Linked DNA regions of Homo sapiens. The protein of the gene in region 1 purifies or fractionates together with the protein of each later gene. This does not show direct contact. Each region holds a gene or a part of one and is shown in the gene's direction. Other genes may lie near its edges.

What was found.
Region 2: the proteins of GLYR1 (region 1) and ZSCAN5A purify together in Homo sapiens (co-immunoprecipitation; one large-scale study listed by IntAct). This does not show direct contact.
Region 3: the proteins of GLYR1 (region 1) and STK3 purify together in Homo sapiens (affinity purification with mass spectrometry; one large-scale study listed by BioGRID and IntAct). This does not show direct contact.
Region 4: the proteins of GLYR1 (region 1) and LYAR purify together in Homo sapiens (affinity purification with mass spectrometry; one large-scale study listed by BioGRID and IntAct). This does not show direct contact.
Region 5: the proteins of GLYR1 (region 1) and FNTB purify together in Homo sapiens (affinity purification with mass spectrometry, with the first as the bait; 2 studies listed by BioGRID). This does not show direct contact.
Region 6: the proteins of GLYR1 (region 1) and SZRD1 purify together in Homo sapiens (co-immunoprecipitation; one large-scale study listed by IntAct). This does not show direct contact.
Region 7: the proteins of GLYR1 (region 1) and PYM1 purify together in Homo sapiens (co-immunoprecipitation; one large-scale study listed by IntAct). This does not show direct contact.

What each region holds. Positions count from the first base shown.
Region 1 is NC_000016.10:4,809,289-4,812,788, reverse strand, and holds part of GLYR1 (cytokine-like nuclear factor N-PAC), read left to right. Parts: intron 1-540; coding exon 541-703; intron 704-986; coding exon 987-1,166; intron 1,167-1,494; coding exon 1,495-1,619; intron 1,620-3,500. UniProt on the Homo sapiens protein: Cytokine-like nuclear factor with chromatin gene reader activity involved in chromatin modification and regulation of gene expression. Acts as a nucleosome-destabilizing factor that is recruited to genes during transcriptional activation.
Region 2 is NC_000019.10:56,224,340-56,227,839, reverse strand, and holds part of ZSCAN5A (zinc finger and SCAN domain-containing protein 5A), read left to right. Parts: intron 1-2,666; 5' UTR 2,667-2,793; coding exon 2,794-3,177; intron 3,178-3,500.
Region 3 is NC_000008.11:98,546,189-98,549,688, reverse strand, and holds part of STK3 (serine/threonine-protein kinase 3), read left to right. Parts: intron 1-1,527; coding exon 1,528-1,720; intron 1,721-3,500. UniProt on the Homo sapiens protein: Stress-activated, pro-apoptotic kinase which, following caspase-cleavage, enters the nucleus and induces chromatin condensation followed by internucleosomal DNA fragmentation.
Region 4 is NC_000004.12:4,280,155-4,283,654, reverse strand, and holds part of LYAR (cell growth-regulating nucleolar protein), read left to right. Parts: coding exon 1-34; intron 35-1,757; coding exon 1,758-1,872; intron 1,873-3,500. UniProt on the Homo sapiens protein: Plays a role in the maintenance of the appropriate processing of 47S/45S pre-rRNA to 32S/30S pre-rRNAs and their subsequent processing to produce 18S and 28S rRNAs. Also acts at the level of transcription regulation.
Region 5 is NC_000014.9:64,993,395-64,996,894, forward strand, and holds part of FNTB (protein farnesyltransferase subunit beta), read left to right. Parts: intron 1-3,500. UniProt on the Homo sapiens protein: Essential subunit of the farnesyltransferase complex. Catalyzes the transfer of a farnesyl moiety from farnesyl diphosphate to a cysteine at the fourth position from the C-terminus of several proteins having the C-terminal sequence Cys-aliphatic-aliphatic-X.
Region 6 is NC_000001.11:16,391,242-16,394,741, forward strand, and holds part of SZRD1 (SUZ RNA-binding domain-containing), read left to right. Parts: intron 1-133; coding exon 134-183; intron 184-1,986; coding exon 1,987-2,241; intron 2,242-3,500.
Region 7 is NC_000012.12:55,900,913-55,903,894, reverse strand, and holds the end of PYM1 (partner of Y14 and mago), read left to right. Parts: intron 1-414; coding exon 415-508; intron 509-1,539; coding exon 1,540-2,023; 3' UTR 2,024-2,482; downstream 2,483-2,982. UniProt on the Homo sapiens protein: Key regulator of the exon junction complex (EJC), a multiprotein complex that associates immediately upstream of the exon-exon junction on mRNAs and serves as a positional landmark for the intron exon structure of genes and directs post-transcriptional processes in the cytoplasm such as mRNA export, nonsense-mediated mRNA decay (NMD) or translation.

The sequences.
Region 1 (3,500 bases):
CCAGGCGTGGTGGCTCACTCCTGTAATCCAAGCACTTTGGGAGGCCGAGGCGGGCGGATCACAAGGTCAGGAGATCAAGACAATCCTGGCTAATATGGTGAAACCTGTCTCTACTAAAAATACAAAAAATTAGCCAGGCGTGGTGGTGGACGCCTGTAGTCCCAGTTACTCGGGAGGCTGAGGCAGGAGAATGGCATGAACCCGCGAGGCGGAGCTTGCAGTGATCCGAGATCGCTCCACTGCACTCCAGCCTGGGCGACAGCGAGACTCCACCTCAAAAAAAAAAAAAAAATTCCAAGTCAGTTGGGTTCCTGTGTGGAGACCCCAGCGTCTCATCACTGCTGTGATTCGGCCTGTGTGACCTGCACATGGTTAGCTCCTGAGTTTAGGTGTCAGCTAAAGGACCTTGGTATGGGTGGCCGTCCCCTCCAGCTCTGGAAGGTGATGAGCAGCCGTGGCCACTCAGCAACACTCCTTGAGTCCTGCCCAGAGAGCGCTGGGAGAGGGGAGGCCTCCAGAAGCTGTGACTTTTCTTTCCAGGTGATTGTGTCCAGGGGGGGGCGCTTTCTGGAAGCCCCCGTCTCAGGGAATCAGCAGCTGTCTAATGACGGGATGTTGGTGATCTTAGCGGCTGGAGACAGGGGCTTATATGAGGACTGCAGCAGCTGCTTCCAGGCGATGGGGAAGACCTCCTTCTTCCTAGGTAACACGCCTGCACCTGTCAGGCCTGGAGCCTGGGGCCACATCTCCTCTGTTTCACACTGATGACAGCGTCAGTCCCACACGGCCTTTCTGCCGGGGACCCTGGGGAAGGTTTCCTTTCACCTGCATAGTCAGTGCGTGGAAGGAGGAAGAGCCAGTCTGTCGGGGGCAGGTGAAGGGGGCCTCCCCTGGAGAGAGGTGGGTCTGAGCAGAGGTGAGGGTGGACAGAGAAGCCCTGTCTGTGGCATTCTTGGGCTGTGACCGTGAGTCTTTACCCTGGGCAGGTGAAGTGGGCAATGCAGCCAAGATGATGCTGATCGTGAACATGGTCCAAGGGAGCTTCATGGCCACTATTGCCGAGGGGCTGACCCTGGCCCAGGTGACAGGCCAGTCCCAGCAGACACTCTTGGACATCCTCAATCAGGGACAGTTGGCCAGCATCTTCCTGGACCAGAAGTGCCAAAGTGAGTTGTTTTTGGCCCCTCTTCTTGCATTTGGTGTTTGATTAGAGCAGGGTACTAGGTCAGGGATTTAGTGAGCGTGAAAGATGCCCCTCCCCAGTCAGTCCCTGACCCTGGCCAGAGGAGGTTCAGAAACACAGTGGGCGGGATTTGGGGATATAGGCTGGGAGCTGCAGCCCTCAGGTGTCTAAGGGTGAGTGAGGAGCCAAGAGGCCTAGGCTATGTGGAACTGAGCCCTGAGTATGTTTTAGGTACTGACACCTGGTGGACCGTAAGTAGTTTTTAGTTTCAGGTCCTTGGCTTTTGTCTGATACTGGCTTTTTCTCCTCAGATATCCTGCAAGGAAACTTTAAGCCTGATTTCTACCTGAAATACATTCAGAAGGATCTCCGCTTAGCCATTGCGCTGGGTGATGCGGTCAACCATCCGACTCCCATGGCAGCTGCAGCAAATGAGGTAGGGTAGATGTGGCCCAAGCCCCAAGGCCCTTCAGTTTCTTTTTCTTTCTTTTTTTTTTTTTTTTAACGGAGTCTCACTCTGTCACCCAGGCTAGAGTGCACTGGTGCGATCTCAGCTCAATGCAACCTCCGCCTCCTGGTTTCAAGCAATTCTCCTGCCTCAGCCTCCTGAGTAGTTGGGATTATAGGTGCCCACCACCATGCCTAGCTAATTTTTGTATTTTTAGCAGAGATGGGGTTTCTCCTTGTTGTTCAGGCTGGTCTCGAACTCCTGACCTCAGGTGATCCACCCGCCTCTGCCTCCCAGAGTGCTGGGATTACAGGCATGAGCTACCACGCCCAGCCATTCAGTTTCTTTTTCTTTTTCTTTTTCTTTTATTTTGAGACAGAGTCTTGCTCTGTCGCCTCAGGCTCTTGCCACCACGCCCGGCTAATTTTTTTTTTTTTTTTTTTTTTTTTTTTTTTTTTAGTAGAGACAGGGTTTCACCATGTTAGCCAGGATGGTCTCGATCTCCTGACCTCGTGATCTGCCCGCCTCGGCCTCCCAAAGTGCTGGGATTACAGGTGTGAGCCACTACACCTGGCCAAGTTTCTTTTTCTTTTATCGTTTCCTTCCCTCTACTTAGTTTAGCTTTTCTTTGTTCTTTTTCTTTTTTTTGAGACAGAGTCTCACTCTGTCGCCCAGGCTGGAGTGCAGTGGTGTGATCTCAGCTCACTGCAGCCTCTGCCTCCTGGGTTCAATAGATTTTTGTGCCTCTGCCTCCCAAGTAGCCTCCCAAGTAGCCTGGGATTACAGGCGTGCCCCAACCCGCCCTGCTAATTTTTGTATTTTTAGTAGAGATGGGGTTTTGCCATGTTGGCTAGGCTGTTCTCCAACTCCTGACCTCAGGAGAGCCACCTGCCTCAGCCTCTCAAAGTGCTGGGATTACAGGTGTGAGCCACTGTGTCTGGCCTCTTTGTTCTTTTTCAAACCCTTTAAAGTGGAATCTTAAATCATTTATTTTAATCCTGCTTTCTTTATAACATGAGTATATAAATCTTTAAATGTCCACTAATCCGTGTTAATTTGTTTTCTGATTTCTTCTTTGATCCATGAATTACTTAAAAGTTTATCTAGTGTTTGGGTTTTCCTAGATATCTAATGATTATTGATTTTTAACTTACTGCTCTATGATCAAAGAACATGCCCTGCCCTGTATTGGGTTTTTTTTGTTTTTTTGTTTTTTGTTTTTTTGTTTTTTTTGGAGACAGAGTTTTGCTCTTTCGCCCAGGCTGGAGTGCAGTGTCGCGATCTCGGCTCACCGCAACCTCTGCCTCCCAAGTTCAAGCGATTCTCATGCCTCAGCCTCTTGAGTAGCTGGGATTACAGGCACACACCACCATACACAACTGATTTTTGTATTTTTAGTAGAGATGAGGTTTCACCATGTTGGCCAGGCTGGGCTTGAACTGCTGACCTCAGGTGATCCGTCCACCTCAGCCTCCCAAAGTGCTGGGATGACAGGCATGAACCACCACAACCAGCTGCCTGTATGATTTTTTTTTTTTTTTTTTTTGAGACGGAGTTTCGCTCTGTCACCCAAGCTGGAGTACAGTGGCACGATCTCGGCTCACTGCAAGCTTCGTCTCCCGGGTTCACTCCATTCTCCTGCCTCACCCTCCTGAGTAGCTGGGACTGCAGGCGCCTGCCACCATGCCTGGCTAATTTTTTGTATTTTTAGTAAAGACGGGGTTCCACTGTGTTAGCCAGGATGGTCTCATTCTCCTGACCAAGATGTTGAAACCCCTATCTCTACTAAAAATACAAAAAATTAGCTGGGCATGGTGGCAGGCACCTTTAATCTCAGCTACTCAGGAGGCTGAGGCAGAGAATTGCTTG
Region 2 (3,500 bases), on another chromosome or scaffold:
TCTAGCATGTTCCCATGTCGGTCTTCCAACCTGTTAGAATTACAGGCCTGAGCCACTTTGCCTGCCACACACCCTTTTTAAAAAGCATTGCTGGATTTTCCCTTTGCACAGGGTGAAATCAAATCATTGATGAATGAGCATCAACCTACTAGGCCAATGAGAATCTGAGCTAAGTGTCCCTACCTGGGTGACCCGTGTGGTATATACTCCCAGAATTGAATACTAACTCCTGTGTCTGCCTTTATTTTTTCCTGTGTCTTGTTTCTTACTTTAACGGGGAATGAACTAAGATCAAATACAAAGTGATTTCTAGGAACATGAAACCACTTTCTTTTTTAGAGACAGGATCTCACTATGTTGCCCAGGCTGTTATCAAACACTTGGGCTCAAGTGATCCTCCCACCTCCGCCTCTGCCTCCTGAGCAGCAGCAGGCGCCCTCTGGCAAAACCACTTTTAATTCCAGAATTTCAGGCTCCCTTTTCTCTATCATATCTGTGTGCTTTTTCAATAAAAATTAATTTGCTTCTAATTGAAAACTAAAAATTGTATATATTTATGGCATATAGCATAATATGCTTTGTAGTATTACAAACATTGTTAAATGGCTAAATTGAGCTAATATTCATATGCCCTACCTCATGTACTAACCATTTTTGGTTTTGAGAATACTTGAAATCTAATTTTTTTTAAGCAGTTTCCAAGTATACAATACATTGTTATGAACTGAAGTCACCATGTTGGACAATTGCTCTTTTGAATTGATTTCTTCAATTGAAATTTGTACTCTTTGACCTATATCTTCCCAACCCCTACCCCAGCCCTGGTAACTATTCTACTCACTACTACTATGAGTTCCACTGGGTTTTTAATTATTATTTATGTTATTTACTTCTTTTTAAATTTTTTTTTGTAATTTGAACTTGTGTTTTAGATTCAGTGGGTACCTGTGCAGATTTGTTGCATGAGTATATTGAGTGATGCTGAGGTGTGAGGTATGACTCTACCCATCACCCAGGATATGAGGATAGTACCCAATAGGTAGTTTTTCAACCCTCCCTCCCTCTATCCCTCCAGAGTTTCACTGTTTTGGAGTCCACGTCCTGATTTCCTTTCCTCTGTGTACCTGCCCCGGAGCGGGATTGCCGGATCATGCAGTTGTTGGACTTTCAATTTTCTGAGGAGCTTCTATACTGTCTCCCATATCGGCTGCTCTAATTTACATCCCAGCACAGGGCGCAGAGGACCCCTTTCCCCCAAATCCTCACCAACACTCGTTCCATGTGTCTTTTTGGGAACAGCCACTCTAGCAGGCGTGAGGGGTGCCTTGTGGTTTGGATTTGCATGTCCCTGATGATGAGTGATAATGAGCACCTTTTCCTAGACCTGCTGGCCATTCACATGTCTTCATCTGAGATGTCCACACAGGCGCCTTAAGCCCTTCTAGTGGGTTATGTGTTTTCTCGCTCTGGAGGAGTTTGAGTTGCTTATGTTTTGCACAGGAGCCCCGTGAGATGTGTGGTGTGTAAATATTGTCTCCTCCTCTGGGTTGTCTCCCGCCTCTGCCGATTGTCTCCCTGGCTGTCTCTCTGTTCTGCACTTGCTCAAAGTCCTTCCAGGAAGTGTGGGGCACTCGCCCTCCAGGCTACCAGTGACTTTTCCCAAGACCCTTCTGCCAGTTTTTTCTCCCCTCTGCAGACCTTCAGGTTGCTTCCCCCACCTGTGTCTAGGAAAGCAGGGCTGTGTTCTCATAGCTGTTGAACTTGGACGATAATTGATGCCTGGAGAGTATCACTCAGTGGCTCCTGCCTAATGAAGCTAGGTTTAGGAATTAATTTTTAAAAATCTTATTATTGTATCAACCCACTTCTTTAAAATATCAAAGAGCACTAGACTTTAAATCCATTTTCTGAGATGAGATTAGGAATACAGAAACCCTTAGAGACAGAAGGTAGATTAGTGATTGCTAGGGGCTGGGGTGGGTGGGCAGGGGGTGATCACTGATGGGGATGGGGTTGCTTTTGGGTTGATGAGATAATTCTGGAAGTAAACAGTGGTAATGGTTGTACAACATGGTGCATGTCTTAGTCCCATAAAATCGTGAACTTGAAGAGAGTAAAAAATGATGAAATTTATGAATGTACATTTTACCAAAATAACAAAATATCTGTGTAGGTGCTTAATCCTCATAGGATCCTTTAATGCTGTCCCTTCCCTGGAGCAAGTAAATGTTCTGGAGTTAACAAGAATATGTGTTGGGGAAAATATTACATTCTAACTCTTTTTCTCTATCCTTTTGCATAATTATGACTAAGGGCTTTGCCTTGGATCTTGTCCTGATGGGGAAACATAAAGGGCTTACTTTATTGTTGCATCACATTTTCAGAGCTTCACCTAACTATCTTATTTAATTTATAGTCAAGAACAATGTTGTTCCAATTGACAGGAAAACTGATTCAGCCTCTGCACAGTGATTTCCTAGAGATCAGAATCCAGGGGTCATTAAGATTTTAAACCAGAGTATGTAGTCAGGTATAGACACTGGAAGATTTCCACTGTGCTGAATTCGATGCTGCTGAAGAAGTGGCATCCAGGATGAGGGATTTCGAAGGGAGGGATGGATGGAGTAGTAACTTAAACTAATGAGGCTCATACTTTTCCCCCCCAGACTTCTGAATGAACAGTGAATCTATTACTGAGGAAAACCAGAGGAAGCCTGTGTAGATAGGTATCAATTAGATACCAGCTACTGGAAGAGCTTTCTCAGAGACTGATTAAAAAATTCTCCACTAGATATGGCTGCAAATTGCACATCCTCATGGAGTCTAGGAGAATCCTGCAACAGACCTGGGTTGGAGCTGCCACGGTCTATGGCATCCTCAGAAACTCAACTTGGAAATCACGACGTGGACCCTGAGATTTCTCACGTGAACTTCAGGATGTTCAGCTGCCCGAAGGAGTCGGACCCCATCCAGGCTCTGAGGAAACTCACTGAGCTGTGCCATCTGTGGCTGAGGCCCGACCTCCACACCAAAGAGCAGATCCTGGACATGCTGGTGATGGAGCAGTTCATGATCTCCATGCCCCAGGAGCTCCAGGTCTTAGTCATGATGAACGGTGTGCAGAGCTGCAAAGACCTGGAGGACCTGCTACGAAATAACAGAAGACCCAAGAAATGGGTGAGTGGGACCCTCGTGATTGGTGCAGGGAAGGGGAGCTGGGATGGGGGCTGCACGGTGCAGCTGGACTCGAGAGGACCCGAGGGGCTGCTCTAGGTCAGGGCTTCCAAGTAGAGGAGAGTTTGCCCGTCGGGGACACATGGCAGTGTCTGGGGACAGTTTTTGTTGTCAGGGAGGACAGGAGACGCTGCTAAGCGTTCTCTAACGCTCAGGACAACCCATCATGACAAATAATCATCCAGATTCCAATATCAGCTGTGCTGAGACGGCAAGTTCCTGGTGTAGGAGATGGACAGGCAGAGGGGGTACAGGGACCCACACAC
Region 3 (3,500 bases), on another chromosome or scaffold:
TAAAGAGCACTTTTAATTTGTACTTTTATTACTGACTTGATTCTTCTGTGAAACATTTAAAAGCTGAGATTTGTCAACAAAAGCAAAAAATTGATAAATCAGACTTCATCAAAATTAAAAACTTACATCAAAAGACGCTATAAATGAAGTAAAAAGCACACAGAATGGGAGAAAATATTTGCAAATTATATCTCTGGTAAGGAATTAATATCCAGAATTTGTAATAACAACAGAAAAACCAAACAACCCATTTTAAAATGGGTAAATGGATATTTCTCCAAAGAAGATATACAAATGGCTAATAAGCGTGCGAAAAGATTGCTCAACATCAGTAGTCATTAGGGAGATGCAGATCAAACTACAATGTGATAACACTTCATGTTCATTAGGATGGCTATTATTTTTTAAAAATGGAAAATAACAAGTGTTGCCAAGGATGTGGAGAAGTTGGAATCCTGTGCATTGCTGGTGGGAGTGTAAAATGGTATAGCCACTGTGGAAAACAGTTTGGGCACTTAAAAAATTAAATATGAAGTTACCATGTGATCCAGCAATTGTACTTCTAGGTAGATACCCAACCAAACTGAAAATAGGGATTCAAACAGATACTTGTAGGTCAGTGTTCACATTAGCACTATTCACAGTAGCCAAAGGTGTCAACAATCCAAATGGCCATCAACAGATAAATAGGGAAACAAAATGTGGTGTATTCATACAATGGAATATCATTCAGCCTTAAAAAGGAATGAAATTTTTCTACCACAATATGCATGAATCTTGAATGCATTAGGCTCAGCAAAATATATTGTATGATTCCACTTACATGAGGTATCTAGAATAGGCAAATTCATAAGTATAATAGTAATTATGAATTAGTACTATGGTATGAATAGTAGTACTCATGAATTTGCCTATTCTAGATACCTCTTGTAAGTACAATAGAGGTTGCCAGGGCTGGGGAAAGGGGGAATGAAGAGTTCTGTAAACATATAATGGTGGTGGTTGCACAACATTGTAAATATACTTAGTGCTACAGAGTTATACACTTAAAAATTGCTAAAATGGTGAATTTTATATATATGTATTTGTATATTTTGCCATAATTTAAAAGAAAAAGCTAATGGCTGTTTTACAAGGTTATAGACATCATTATGCCCATTATAATACAAAGTGTCAATGTGTTCTGTCTTAAAGGTGCTCTCATATATATTTAGTTGTTTTGTCACCATATTCTTTGTTATGCATTTGCTGATAGTTTACCTATCTTAATCCTTATTTTAAAAGCAACTAGCAGCCTTCTACTTCATCAGTTTCTGTTGCTTGATCTGTAATTACCTAAAGCTTTAGGTTATTTTGAATAATTTTCACTCTTAAAATAACATTTGTATGTATGTATTTATATTAAAATCAGTACTAATAGTATTTTTAATAAGTATTAAAACTATAATATATTCATTCTCTTGTTAAGAATTAAGAAATCCAGCTGTCATAGAAAAGTCTTCCCTCATTGCAGTATTTTGCTTGCAGGATGAAGATGAGCTGGATTCCCACACCATGGTGAAGACTAGTGTGGAGAGTGTGGGCACCATGCGGGCCACAAGCACGATGAGTGAAGGGGCCCAGACCATGATTGAACATAATAGCACGATGTTGGAATCCGACTTGGGGACCATGGTGATAAACAGTGAGGATGAGGAAGAAGAAGATGGAACTATGAAAAGTATGTGGCTTTTTTACATTAAATATTAGTTTTCTAATTCGAAAGGATACTTTTATAGGAACCAGGCTAGTTCTGTGTTACTTTTTATAGCCAACTGTGGAAAATTTTGTTTCTTAGATTTATGTAACAGTAAAAAAGAGTATGGCACAAGTCACCTTTTTAAAATTGTATTTTAATATAGCAGAAAACAACACATCTTCAACTTAGAGTTATGGAACTTTTTTCTGTTGAAGGTTGCTAACCCACGGCTTAATTTGCAAAGTATTTTAGAGAGAAAAAGATAGTGTTCCTAACATTTACTTTCCCAATTAAAAAAGTGAACCTAAAATTATCTTCCAGTAAATTCAACAGACTATTATTTTATGTTGTCCAAATTATCAGTTAAACCACAAAGAGCAGTGCGAGCTATGGGAAGAAATAAGGTGGGAAAATAAGAAGCACTAGAAAGAAGGATTAAGAGACAGGGATGCTCATACAGAAGATTCAGTTGCATGAATATTTACTGCTGCTTATCATATGTGAGGCACAGTGCTGGGGGTGCTGCAGTGGCTAAAATGATGATCAAACATTCTCTCTGACCTCTGTTGCTTACAAAGTGATGACAATAGGAATGCTTTCACAGACTAGCACTTCTCTTTTTTAAAAACAGTTTTTTAAGATACTGCAGTTAACATCGTAGGTCATTGTGATTTCACAGTTATAGGCAAAAATGAATTTTCTCTTAGCACCAACTGACCTTTTTCTTCCTGTCATGCTCCTACCCTAGTCCTGTGTGGTTAGTGTCAAAGTCTAAGCAAGCACTAGGCTGCTTTCCACTGAAGAGTATTGCCTCTCCATGGCAGAACAGCAGAATTACATGACTTCTAGCATTGTAGAACCTAGAAAATTGTAAATATTCAAGTGATTTGCTGGTACTGCAAAATGGATACCAGAATTTTCTCTCAGATACTTCCATTTCCTTTTTGCCCACCCTTTTCTTTTTGCTACTCCGCCATGAGGTCTGACCCATAACTTCAAGTCACGTGGCTCAGTACTGCTGCTTTCTTCACATTCCCTAGTTCTGTGTAGCCCACTATGGTTGCATATGTACTTTGGATAGAGAGGATCATGAAGCACAAAATGTAATAGATTGCTATATTGCCATAATCCTGGGGGTGGAGTATGAATTTTCTATCTCCTGCCATTGGTGGGTCTTCTGTGCCTTTTTCCTGGAAAGCAGCCTACATCTTGGATTTCCTGAAATTCCTAGCTGGGCATCTGACTAGAGTAAGTTTTCTGCATCCATAACGTGCCTCACTCCACTGCAGAGGATGGTCTTATGGCCTCCAGAACCAGCTAGTGTTGGGGTACAAGTGGATCACAAAGACTCTGTGGTAAAACAGTTAACACATTTTTCATCAACATGTAATATCAATTTTCCATAAGCTGATATAATTTTTAACTCAAATTTTATGATTCTTAACAGATCAATTAGATCATTGAGTGCTTTTTTGTGTCTTTAGGGAGTTACTGAGCTCCTTATGAAACTATATGAACAACTTTTCATGCAGTCATATAGTTGAACATCAGCATATATATAATAGTTAAGAAAAATGAGTCTTTATAGAATCTAATTCATTTAGATTGCAGTGTATTATATTTCAAGGAAGAGAGACTAATGATGATGTTTCCGACATCATACTTTATACCACAGATTTCTGACATTTTGTATAGTGACTTTTAGATTTGACATCCACAAAAATCAATACATGTTATAATTTTGTTATAACTGATTGTATAG
Region 4 (3,500 bases), on another chromosome or scaffold:
GCCTTTCTTGCATTGACTGCGGTAAAGATTTCTGGTAAGCTTCACAGAATTCATGTAGATCCATAGTAAATCCAGATCAGTTTTGGAAGCCTTGGCGCCACAAAGCTTGGAAAAATAGTGGCAAATTTGAAGAATGAAATTAAGACTAAAAACTGGTATGTTCCATTGATTAAAACTGGTGTGATTCTTTCAAATGTGCTTTACTAGGCCGGGCGCAGTGGCTCAGGCCTGTAATCCCAGCACTTTGGGAGGCCAAGGTGGGTGGCTCATGAGGTCAGGAGTTGAAGACCAGCCTGGCCAACATAGTGAAACCCTGTCTCTACTAAAAATACAAAAATTAGTCAGGCGTGGTGGTGGGCGCCTGTAATCCCAGCTACTCGGGAGGCTGAGGCAGGAGAATCGCTTGAACCCAGGAGGCAGAGGTTGCGGTGAGCCGAGATTTCACCACTGCACTCCAGCCTGGGCAACAGAGCAAGTTAACCCCTTCTTGGGGGGGAGAAATGTGCTTTACGAAACAATTTGCTTTTTGAGGATATGTTAAAGAAAAGACTAGGGGAAGGGGAATTATGATGATTAGAGTGTTCAGTCAGTTGGTGACACTGGTTGCTATTGCATTGCCACTGTTTACAGACCCAGGGAACTAACTGCGTGGAAGATGGCTCCAGGGGTTTAGAGCCAGTTTCATTAGACCATGGGTATCACATGCCCATCACAGTGGAGAGATGGACTTATGAACCAGAAAGTGAATTTATGAGCTCACAGTGGGGCAGATGACTGGTAGCAGAGGAAACTATGTCCTCCCTAGAAAATCAGAGGTGCTGGTGGAAGTGAGGCTCTTCCTGGCCCCACGGGTGTGTCAGGAGACACTTCCACTGAGGAGGCCTCTGTGAATGTGAGGAGTTAGCGGGGAGGGACAGGACAGATCCTGCCTTAGACACCGGTTCTTCAGGTGGGTCGTTTGCAGAGGGCTCCCCTCTTGAATTTCATGTTGATTCCCCTTCAGCCTCAGAAGGTCCAGGCGAGAAGCTGGCTTCTGGCTGCATCTGCCCCAGTGTCCTCTGAGGCATTCGGATGGTACTGGCTAATACTCTCTTTTAATTCATTCTGGAGCAGTGATTTTTTTTGGAAACTGCTAACCTCTGTTCAGACGTAATCCTAGGAGGAAGCTTGATATATAAAGTAGGTTAAAATTGAGTTTTCATTAGGGGACTTTGCCCTGGACCTTGTCCCCAACATTTCCCTGAAGAACCCCATAGAGCTTTACAAAGATTATATGAGAGAGAATTTAGTTTTCTTTTTTCTCAGGACCCTAAGGGATCCAGAACTGTTGGTAACCTCATGCTGCCATTTTATATCTGTTTTTGATTTATTCTACAACTAATTATTGACTGTCTATTAGACATTGAGATTTTTATAATTTAAAAAAACTACCCTATTGCATAGAACTATTTTCTTGTTTATTCAGTATATGTACACTTATGACTTAAAAAAATACTGCCTATCAATTTAGCTTAAGGTGTTTATAAAAATGGGGGAAAAGTTTGGTGATGGGTTTTATATTGACGACTTTGGAGGAAGGGGGATGTGGTTCTGACCAGGAGGCTGTAAACATAATAAGTGAAATAGATGGGGTGCTTGTGTGATAGACACATGTGAAAATATACAGTGTAGACCACAGAAGATAGTGGCAGCATGCTGGTATTAGCGCCTCCAACTTGGGTATCAGTCTAATGGCAGAACTTTTGATCACTTTAAAGGGGCGATGACTATAAAAACCACGTGAAATGCATAAGTGAAGATCAGAAGTATGGTGGCAAAGGCTATGAAGGTAAAACCCACAAAGGCGACATCAAACAGCAGGCGTGGATTCAGGTAACGTCTCTCTAACTCATTGAGTAGCTTCCTCTGACAGCTTCCGCTTTCTTTGGAAGCCCAAGAGACTAAGAGTAAATGTGTCATCCCTGCAGACAAGCTCTGGAAACCTCATGTCCTAGGATAGACAGGTTGAACTAAAACCTCTTGAAAAAGAATTCTTTGGCTGGGCATGGTGGCTCACGCCTGTAATCCCAGCACTTTGGGAGGCCAAGGCAGGCGAGTCACGAGGTCAGGAGTTCAAGACCTGCCTAGACAACGTGGTGAAACCCCATCTCTACTAAAAATACAAAAAATTAGCCGGGCATAGTGGCGGGTGCCTGTAATCCCAGCTACTCAGGAGGCTGAGGCAGGAGAATCGCTTGAAGCCAGGAGGCAGAGGTTGCAGTGAGCCGAGGTTGTACTGGGTGACAGAGTGAGACTCCGTCTCAAAAAAAAAGAAAAAGAAAAGAAAGAAAAAAAGTTCTTTATTCTTCTAGCTGTTAAAACAGTTGCGGTGCATTATACCTTTAATCCATGTGTTTTGTTAATTTCTTGAAAAAAAAGTTTTAGAATTCTCATTAGCTTTCCCTTGGCTGTAAAACTAAATGGAAGCTTCTAATCTCTCCCTGCTTCTAGTGATAATGGAGCTTTTATAACTCAAGCCATGTTAATCTGTCACATCTGCCAGTCATTAGAATTAGGCAAAATAAAGATACTTTCGTCAATGCAGAGAATTTTCTACTTAACTAAAACAGCATGAAAACATGCACAGTAGAAATGGCAGAAACATTGACTCCCTAATTCACTGGGAAGTATAACTCTCAGAATGCTACTGATCATTTACAGAATAGGTAGCAGGAGGAAGGATTCAGAAAGGAAGGTGGGATAATGAAAAGACGGATGTCATCTATTGAAAATTCTGTGTTTTTCTAAAAACCAATAAAAAGTAATCGTTCCATTTGATAATAGAGTTGGAACGTGAATTTTTCAGACATTAACTAGCTTACTGAATGAGCATACTACTGGGAGGGTATTTCTGTTCACAAAGGACTTACTAGAGCAGATTGAGAAGCTAATGAAATCCTGTTTGCACTGGTGACCAGCAGCCACACTTTTGAGCACTCTCTGTAATTCTCTAAAAACCAGATGACGTTCCTAGACCCTAAGGTTGAGGTGCATGGGTCTGTGAGTTCCGTCTCTGCTGCTGTCACACTCGATGAAATCCTCTGAAGCAGGGGTCAGCAAACTACAGAAACTTATTACAGCTTTGTAATAAGTTTTGAAATCAGAAAATATGAGATCTGCATTTTTGTTGTTCTTTTCAAGATTGTTTTGGCTATTTGGTATCTTTTGAGATTCCCTGTGAGTTTTAGGATGGATTTTTCTGTTTCTGTAAAAACGTATATATACACACACATTGGATTTTGATAGGAATTGTATTGAATCTGTAGATTGCTTGGGTAGTATTAACATCTTAACAACTTTAAGTCTCCCAGTCCATGAGTACGGAATGTTTTTCATTTATTTGTGTCTACTTTAATTTCTTTCAGCAGTGTTTTTTGGTTTTCAGTAAACAAGTCTTTTGCCTCTTCAGTTAAGTTTATTCCTGATTATTCTTTTTGATGCTGTTGCAAATGGAATTGTTT
Region 5 (3,500 bases), on another chromosome or scaffold:
CCATTAGCCAAAGCAGCCTTAACTGAGGTTGTTTTAGGGTATTGTGTCATCCCCAGCTGGTACTTTGTATTCAAAATAAGGAAATTGCAAAACTTCCTACAGCAAGAGGTACTTTGTAAGTATTTGAATATAAAGTGACTTGTATTTTCTGAGAGAGAATTTTTTTTGAAAAGTCTTGCCTTATATTTCATATATTAAATGACTCTTCTACTGCAGCTTCAATGACATGAATCTTAGGCAGCAAATCTACTTTCTGAAACATTCTGTCTCTGGGAGAGGAGGGAGATATAGGAAGCAGAGAAGTGATAGTGCCTGGTATGAAAGTTGGTGCCTCATGAGATTGGCTTTAGATAGAAGCTGTGAAAGAGAAAGTGCCAAATGCATTAGTTGTTGTTTACCACTTACTGAATGGAAACTATTCTCTGCTTTTATTGATTGGATTTCTTTTTTTTTTTCTTTTTTTATTTTTATTTTTTTTGAGACAGAGTTTCGCTCTTGTCGCCCAGGCTGGAGTGCAGTGGTGCGATCTCCACTCACCGTAACCTCCGCCTCCTGGGTTCAAGCGATTCTCCTGCCTCAGGCTCCCAAGTACCTGGGATTACAGGCATGTGCTACCACACCCGGCTAATTTTTGTATTTTAGTAGAGGTGGGGTTTTACCATGTTGACCAGGCTGGTCTCAAACTCCTGACCTCAAATGATCCACCCGCTTCCACCTCCCAAAGTGCTGGGATTACAGGCGTGAGGTACCATGCCTGGCCTAGTGATTGGATTTCTATTGATTAAATGAAAAACTCCATGAAATACCTTTTAAACAGAGCTGTCCAGAATGCAGGCATTTGGTTAGCTCTTCATTTATTTATTGCCATGGCACCTAAGTGTTGGGGACCCTAGTACAGTTACTTGATCCCTGGCCCCTAGAGTCTAACACAATCTCTCCATTACTGAACAATACAAACTAATATACATATAGTTATGTATCACTTAACAGTAGAAATACATTGTCAGTAGGAAATTTCCTTGTCATGTGAACATCATAGAGTGTACTTAACACAAATGTAGATGGCATAGCCTACTACACACCTAGGCTATATGGTATAGCTTGTTGCTCCTAGGCTACAGGCTACAAACCTACACAGTATGTTACTGTACTAAATACTGCAGGCAATTGGAACACAATGGTAAATATTTTTGTATCTAAACATATGTAAATATAGAAAAGGTAAAGTAAAAATATGTTATAAAAGATAAAAAATGATAGACCTATCTAGGGAACTTAGCATGAATGGAGCTTGTGGGCCTGGAAGTTGCTCTGGGTGAGTGAGTGAATGAGTGGTGAATGAATGTGAAGCCCTAGGATATGAGTGTACACTACTGTAGACTTTATAAACACTGTACACTTGTTACTGAGCAGACATTATGAAAAATAAAAATAAACACGGTATGCTTAAGCTACACTAAATTTATTCATACGCTTTTTTCTTTCAATAATAAATTAAACCTAGCTTACTGTAAATTATTTACTTCATGAACTTAAAAAATTTTTTTACAGCTTTTTGACCCTTTTGTAATAACAGTTTAAAACACAAGCACATTGTACTGCTGTACAAAAATATTTTCTGTATATTTTTATTCTGTAAGCTGTTTTCTACTTTAAATTTTTTAACTTTCTTTTTACCTTTTAAACTTCTTTGTTAAAAACCAAGACACAAACGCACACATTAGCCTGGACCTAGACAGGGTCAGGATCATCAGTGTCACTGCCTTCCATCTCCACATTTCATCCCACTGGAAGGCCTTCGGGGACAGTGATAGGCATGGAGCTGTCATCTCCTAGGATAACAGTGCGTTCTTCAGGAATTCCTCCTGAAGGACCTGCCTCAAGCTGTTTTATAGTTAATTTTTTAAATAAGTAGAGTTACACTCTAAAATAATAATATATAGTATAGTAAACATGTGAATTAGTAATGTAGTTGTTTATTATCATTATCAAGTGTTATGTACTGTACATAATTGTATGTGTTATACTTTTATAACACTGACAGTGCAGTAGGTTTATTTACACCAGCATCACCACAGGCATGTGAGTAATGCTTTGTGCTACAACATCATGAAAGCTGTGTTACTAGGCTGTAGGGATTTTTCAGCTCCATCATAGTCTTAACGGGACTGCCGTGGAATATGGGGTACGTTCTTGACCAAAACATCCTTATGTGGCACATTACTATATTAGTTTATATCATATATGTGTGTATAGTTTATAAGTTGATACATACTTAGTTTATATTATATATTTTAAAGATATATGTGTATATTATATATGTATATATTTTATATATATACATGTGTGCATATAAGTGTATGTATGTATATGTACGTATGTATGTATGTATGTATGTATAAAGCCTGACCAGCAAACTTGAAAACATTCTGTACACAGAAACACCTAGCCTGGGGCTGGGTGCAATGGCTCATATCTGTAATCTCTGCACTTTGGGAGGCTGAGGCACGCGAATCTCCTGAGGTTGAGACCAGCCTGGCCAACTTGGTCAAACCCTATCTCTACTAAAAATACAAAAATTAGCCAGGCCTGGTGGCAGGCACCTGTAGTCCCAGCTACTCAGGAGGCTGAGGCAGGAGAATCGCTTGAACCTGAGAGGTGGAGGTTGCAGTGAGCTGAGATCATGCTATTGCACTCCAGCCTGCATGACAAGAGCAAAACTCTGTCTCAAAAAAAAAAAAAAAAAGAAAAAAGAAAAGAAACAACCAAGCCTGGGCTGGGCACCGTGGCTCATGCCCGTGATCCCAGCACTTTGGGAGGCTGAGGCAGGAGGACTGCTTGAAGCCAGGAATTTGAGACCAGCCTGTGCAACATGGTGAGGCCCATCTCTATTATAAGAAAGAAAGAAAGACAGAGAGGGGAGAGAAAGTAAGAAAGAAAAGAAAAGAAACATCTAGCCTGTGCCCTGTCAGGAGCAGGGGTAAACTCAACTCTTGGGTTCCCTTTTTGCCATATCGTGAGTGATCAGTTGCCTCATGATTAGAGAAGGTGAGAGAGGTACTGTTAGGCTTAACATTTGTTAGGTTATACATTAAATAATGGGAGAGCTGGCCTTGGAACCTAACAGTTAGGTATAACATTGTGTTGATGGGAAAACAAATAAGGTCTAAAAACCAATGAACTTTGAGAACACAGCTTCTGCGTATGTTGTGGCCTGCCTATCTAAGTAGGTGTAGGGGATGAGGTATCACAAAACTAAGCACTTTGAAATCCTTTTCCTTTATTTTTCTAAGAAATTTATGGTTAACAAAAGTATAATAATGTAATTAAGAGCCATTTTTCTATAACTGAGAATTAACATTTGCTAACATCTTTTTTTTTTTTTTTTTTTTTGCTTCTGGTTATTTGTTTAAAGGAAAAGCAATTAGAAATATAGCCAAAGCCTCCTTTAACCCTATCCCCAGTTCAGTGTGCCTGCCACCCTTCCCAGAAGCAGCCCT
Region 6 (3,500 bases), on another chromosome or scaffold:
CATTTGTTATGTTGAAGGACACAGTCATGTCCCTGGCTAGAGAAAGGACACTGCCCTTAGCTCCAAAAATAAAGACTAAGTTTTTATTTGAGAGAGATTTTTTCCTCTTTTTATATACATTTTTTTCCTCTAGGAAATAGACAGACGGTTGGAAAAAAAACTGAAGATCACACAAAAAGAGAGGTAAGGCTGCTGTCTGGTCTGAGGGCTCATGCTCTCTGTGGTTTGAGAGCCGGGCAGTCAGTGGTGTTCTCCAGCTGGCCATTAGGATTAGCAGGTCCTAGCAGGTCAGGCTCTGGGGCAGCAAACCCTTCCCTCCAAATTGGAGACCAGGACGTGGTGGCTTGAGGCTTTAGGGTTGAGGCTGGGGTGTTGCACCTGCCTCTGACCTTCGTGGGCTCCCTGTGTGAGGTCATCTGATGCAATGTGAGGAAGTGACAAGTTGGAAGACTTGAGTTTTAGGCCTGGCAGTGCCCCAGTTGCTCTGAGGTCTGGGGCAAGTCATTTCCCAGATCTGGACATCAGTTTCTTTCTCTGTGGCATGAGGAGTGTGGGCAGATGATTTCTCTGGGTCCCCAGTGACTTGGTGGTCTAGGGTATTATGAGGGTATCCTGGAAGAAAACATTCTAGGAAATTCTTGAAAAAACCTTTAAAAATAGCTTTGTTTTCCACCTAGACGACAGAGGAGGGTGTTTCCAGAGTAGGTGAAAGTTGACTTCGGCTTTCTGCTTTTGGGCTTAGGGAACCTGTTGGTTTTCCATAGGTACAAGGGACAGGAAGGAGGATAGGGCCCCTCTGGATTTGCTCACGGGGCTGCACAGTCATTCCCCAGGAAACTCTGGGTGCTCTGCCCGCCCGCTAGTTTTCCTGGCTCCCTGCCTCTTTGATCAGATTGCTGGCTCCTTGTCTGTCTGCTCATCTCAGCAACCACGCTAACCCTGGGTTACAGTCCTCGTTCCATACCATTTGTGTCCTACCCGAGACTTGTTTCCATCCACCCTGGCTCAGTTCCTCCAATCCCGACTCCTCCTGACAGCCAAGGCTCTGGAAGCAGGCTTGTTTGGTTCTGAAGAGAAGCTGGTTGACTGCTCTGGGTAGGGTCCTGGTGGCTGTTGTCGGGTGGTCATTCCTGCCTGGGTTCCTGTCTCCTCCTGTGGCTTTTGTTTCTTTCCCTTCCTGTGTTGTTGTCCCTCTTTGTTTTTTGTCATTCCACCTCTCCCTGTGGACACATCGCCTTGATGTACGCGTCCACCAGCCTTGGACAATGCTTTTCTTTTGAGCATTGCCAAGCACTGTTTCTAGGAGCATCCTTCACTCCAGCCCCGCCGCTGTCCAAAAGACCAGGGAGCCCTGGCAAGGGAGGTTTCTCTGTTCAGAAGCTTTTTGAAGAGGATTCAGTTGTCTGGTGTAGCTTGTCTCTGGGAGGCACAGGTCACTCTCACTAGAAGGTGGCTTGGTAAATCTTGATGCCAGGCAGGGATGGCGTAGTGGGCTCCTTTGTAGTGTTTGTCTGGTTTGAGCATGTGATGGAAGATTTGGCTGAGTGAACACTGCTGACCCCCAAGTTCAAAGGCTCCCACCCCACCAGCCAGTCCTACTCTGATCTGCGTAGAGAAGCTGGGATCTTAACTGACGTCATTCAATTCTGGACATAAACTGTTTTGCTGCAGGGCCAAATAGTGGTTGATGTGGCTGTGGTGAACATGGGGATAGAAGTGCCAGAATGAGGTGGCGTTCCAGCCCCTGTGGCCAGGGGTTAGGGCTGAGGAGCAGTTCCTGTGGCCTGTCAGAGCTGGTCGCAAGCTTACTTTTTTGGGACACCCTTCTTGAGGAGTGGAAATTTTGCTGTCTGGTCAGAGGCCAGAGAATCATGCATGGGTAGAATTAGGGAGGGAGAGGAAAGTGATGAGAGGTGGGTGTGGGACATGGACAGGGCCTCCTTAGTCAGGAGCATGATTTGTGAAGCTGTGTTTGCTCTTTGTCAGCAGGAAATCCAAATCTCCTCCCAAAGTGCCCATTGTGATTCAGGACGATAGCCTTCCCGCGGGGCCCCCTCCACAGATCCGCATCCTCAAGAGGCCCACCAGCAACGGTGTGGTCAGCAGCCCCAACTCCACCAGCAGGCCCACCCTTCCAGTCAAGTCCCTAGCACAGCGAGAGGCCGAGTACGCCGAGGCCCGGAAGCGGATCCTGGGCAGCGCCAGCCCCGAGGAGGAGCAGGAGAAACCCATCCTCGACAGGTGAGTGTGGCTGGCAGGGCCGGCCAGTGATGGCTGTCCCAGTCCACCCGGGAAGAGGAGAGCATCCTGGCTGCGTGTAGAGTAGTGAGAAGCAAGCAGAGTCAGGGTAGGAACCATGCAGCTCCACTTGCTGATCCCAGCCTGCTGGCACTAGTTCACTGTGCCGCATTGGCTGGAGAGGGCTCTGAAAGCCTTGCCAGGGAGGAGGTGGCAGTTTGCTGGCATGCTCCCTCTGCGGTTGGTAGTCACCGGGGGCACTGTTGTGTAGAGAGTGAAGGCACAGATGAGCTTGTGTCAAAATCTGCCTCTTACCTCTTCTTTAGAACGACTTGACCTCTCTGGGCCTTAGTTTTCTCATCTGAAAAAATGGGATAATAATAGTACCAACCTTATCAAGGTGTTGTGCAATTCAGTGAGTAAATGAGCATAGGATGTGGAGAGCCTGGGCTGGCAGAGTGGAAAGTACCCCAGATAAGTGCTTTGATGATATTTTCTGGGTCTCCAGTATGCCCACTGTGATGTTTTTGTGAATTTTCTAAATTCCTTTTTACTCTTAACATTTTTTTCTCTGCAGTATTAAAGGTTGCATCATATAAGTTTATCACTTTCGAATCAAACAGTATTCATTAAGATGGCCTCCTTCTAACTTTGAGGGGCTGCTATGGTTTGGTATTCTGGGACTTGAAGAAAAAATCTGCGTACCTTCTTTCTAGCTCTTCATAATTTTGAAGAGATACCTGTTCTTTTTGTTGTTTCTCCTCTAAGTCTTCACCTTTCCAGGGTGGAAAAATAGTCATATGAGTCAACCGTTAACCGCAGAGTTTGGAGAGGAGTGGGAGGGAAGAATTGGGGGGCGGGGGATGTGTCCCTCTGCTGAGCTCTTGATTCCAGTTCTTTACTTTGGCCTAACACTCTGGAGATTCCAAATGGTTCTGCGGAGCATGTGCTATCCATGGTCACTGCCTCTGGGCAGAGTGGGCCCTCAAGCACTCCCCCTGCCTACAAGTGCATGATGGCAGCTGAGCAGGGGGAAAGGATGCTGTAGCTGCTAGAGGTGAATGTGCACCACCGACCCTGCCTGCTCACAGGGGCCTCTCAACTTGGAGGTGCCCTGAGTCAGCTTCCCAAAGAAGCAGGCTTGCGGAGCCAGAGTGACGTGGGCCCAGCTATATGGACAGTTGATTTTAAGATGGGGGACATCTAGGCCAGGTGCAGTAATCCCAGTACTTTGAGAGGCCGAGGTGGACGGATCACTTGAG
Region 7 (2,982 bases), on another chromosome or scaffold:
TTGACCTATTTTTTTAAGTTCCATCTAAATAAAATTTCTCCTTTACAACATCCGCTATTGTCATTTCTCCTCCCCGTGGTTTTTGTGTCTTTTTAGCCTCTTGTTCATTTACTGCCTTTCATGTTCCCATGCTATTGCCTTGGTTTTTTAACAAAATTCTTCCTCTGTGCCTATCCTGTCTTACCTACAAATAGAATCTTCTTGAGGGCAAGGATGGTTTCTTGTACGGTGTATTGGCACTCGGTAAATAAATAATGAGAGAGGGATTGAGTGTTGGTATGAGAAAAGGAGCCTAATGGTTGCATTTGGATGAATGGGTGCTGAGAGATGGTATGTACATTTATACATTCTTGTCTCATCTTGTAAAATGTTTGAAAATAAGAGTAATTTTCAACTTGATTTTTCTTATTTTAGGCAAGTATATCGCGTCAACACAGCGACCTGACGGGACCTGGCGCAAGCAGCGGAGGGTGAAAGAAGGATATGTGCCCCAGGAGGAGGTCCCAGTGTACGTGGTTAGGCTTTGCGTAGGGGTTTTCTGATGGGGTCCCTACAGAAGGATAGAATATCCTTATGCCTACAAGTTCAGGGAGGACTCTCCTAAGCCCCAAGGAAATGGAAGGAGGGGCAACTATCTGAGAAAGGAGAGAAAGAGTCTGGGATTCAGGGATGAGTGAGGGTTACAGATCACTAGTCCTATACTTTTGACCTCTGTTCATTAGAACCTCCAGAGCTTTAGGTTCTAGGGACTTCGCTGCATCTTTCCTGCAGAGCAGAGGAAAGTTGGGGAGGGACCATAAAGAGAGAAAGGTGGTCAGGCCCAGTGGCCTACATCTGTAATCTGAGCACTTTGGGAGGCCTAGGCAGGTGGATTACTTGAGGTCAGGAGTTCAAGAACAGCCTCCCCAAAGTGGTGAAACCCCGTCTGTACTAAAAATACAAAATTACAAAATACAAACATCAGCCAGGCGTGGTGGCACGAGCCTGTAATCCCAGCTACTCAGGAGGCTGAGGCAGGAGAATCTCTTGAACCCGGGAAGTGGGAGGTTGCAGTGAGCTGAGATTGCGCCAGTGCACTTCAGCCCTGGCGACAGAGCGAGACTCTGTCTCAAAAACAAACAGGCAGGCGCAGTGGCTCTCTGTAATCCCAAGCACTTTGGGAGGCCAAGATCGGTGGATCACCTGAGGTCAGGAGTTGAAGACCAGCCTGACCAACATGGTGAAACCCCATCTCTACTAAAAATACACAGTTAGCCAGGCGTGGTGGCAGGCGCCTGTAATCCCAGCTACCCGGGAGGCTGAGGCAGGAGAATTGCTTGAACCCTGGAGGTGGAGGTTGCAGTGAGCTGAGATTGCGCCATTACACTCCAGCCTGGGCAACTGAGCGAGACTCTATCTCAAAAAACAAACAACCCCACAAAAACAACAACAAAAAAAGGAAGCAAGAATGTAATGAGGATGAAGTGTTTGGAAGTTTAAGAAAAGGGATCAAAAAGTCAGTAATTCTCTGAAACTCTTGACATCCTTTGTTTCCTGCAGATATGAAAACAAGTATGTGAAGTTTTTCAAGAGTAAACCAGAGTTGCCCCCAGGGCTAAGCCCTGAGGCCACTGCTCCTGTCACCCCATCCAGGCCTGAAGGTGGTGAACCAGGCCTCTCCAAGACAGCCAAACGTAACCTGAAGCGAAAGGAGAAGAGGCGGCAGCAGCAAGAGAAAGGAGAGGCAGAGGCCTTGAGCAGGACTCTTGATAAGGTGTCCCTGGAAGAGACAGCCCAACTCCCCAGTGCTCCACAGGGCTCTCGGGCAGCCCCCACAGCTGCATCTGACCAGCCTGACTCAGCTGCCACCACTGAGAAAGCCAAGAAGATAAAGAACCTAAAGAAGAAACTCCGGCAGGTGGAAGAGCTGCAGCAGCGGATCCAGGCTGGGGAAGTCAGCCAGCCTAGCAAAGAGCAGCTAGAAAAGCTAGCAAGGAGGAGGGCGCTAGAAGAGGAGTTAGAGGACTTGGAGTTAGGCCTCTGAGGCCTTTGGGGAATAGGGAATGGACTGCAGAACAAACCGTGGGGCTCTCTGGGGTCTGGGGGAATACGGGCAACAGCAGTCAGGAGGGGTACCCCCCATACTGGCTTACTTCCACCTCCTGCGGCCCAGCTCTGTCCTCCAGAGCCTAGCGTCTCCCTCAATCCTTCCCTTTTCTTCCCAACTTCTACTTTTTGGACTTTCCCCCTCCCATTCCCAGTGTTCAAAATCTCAGTGACTACCCCAGGTACCTTTGCTGCTGATTTGGGTGTCTTGTTTAAAAGAAAATCAGGTGGGTGGGAATCTCTTGGAGAACTGAGGCTGAGGGTAGAGGGAGTATGCCCAAGTCTTGGAGTCTTGGTTCCTGTTCGCGGTGTTTATGGGTTATTTCCCTCTCCATCCCTCATTTTTTTTTTTTTTTTAAAAAAAGCAAAAATGAGAATAAACACAAGTAGACATGTCTGGCTTTGCCTCCTTATTTTCAGCTCCTAGTAGATATTGTATCTCCTGAGTTTGGCACAGGAAGACAAGTATTGGGAGTGATTTCTTTTCTTTTCGAGACAGAGTTTTGTGCTGTTGCCCAGGTTGGAGTGCAGTGACGTAATCTGGGCTCACTGCAAACTCTGTCTCCTGAGTTCACGCAGTTCTCCTGCCTCAGCCTCCCTCCCGAGTAGCTGTGATTACAGGTGCCCACCACCACACCTGGCTAATTTTTTAGTAGAGATGGGGTTTCACCATGTTGGCCAGGCTGGTCTTGAACTCCTAATTTCAGGTGATCAACCCACCTTGGCCTCCTAAAGTGCTGGGATTTTAGGCATGAGTTACTGTGCCCAGCCGATATATATTTTTTTCTTTTTCTTTTTTTGTGAGATGGAGTCTCGCTCTGTCTGCCAGGCTGGAGTGTAGTGGCGCGGTTTCAGCTCACTGCAACCTCTGCCTCCCGGGTTCAAGCAATTCTCCTG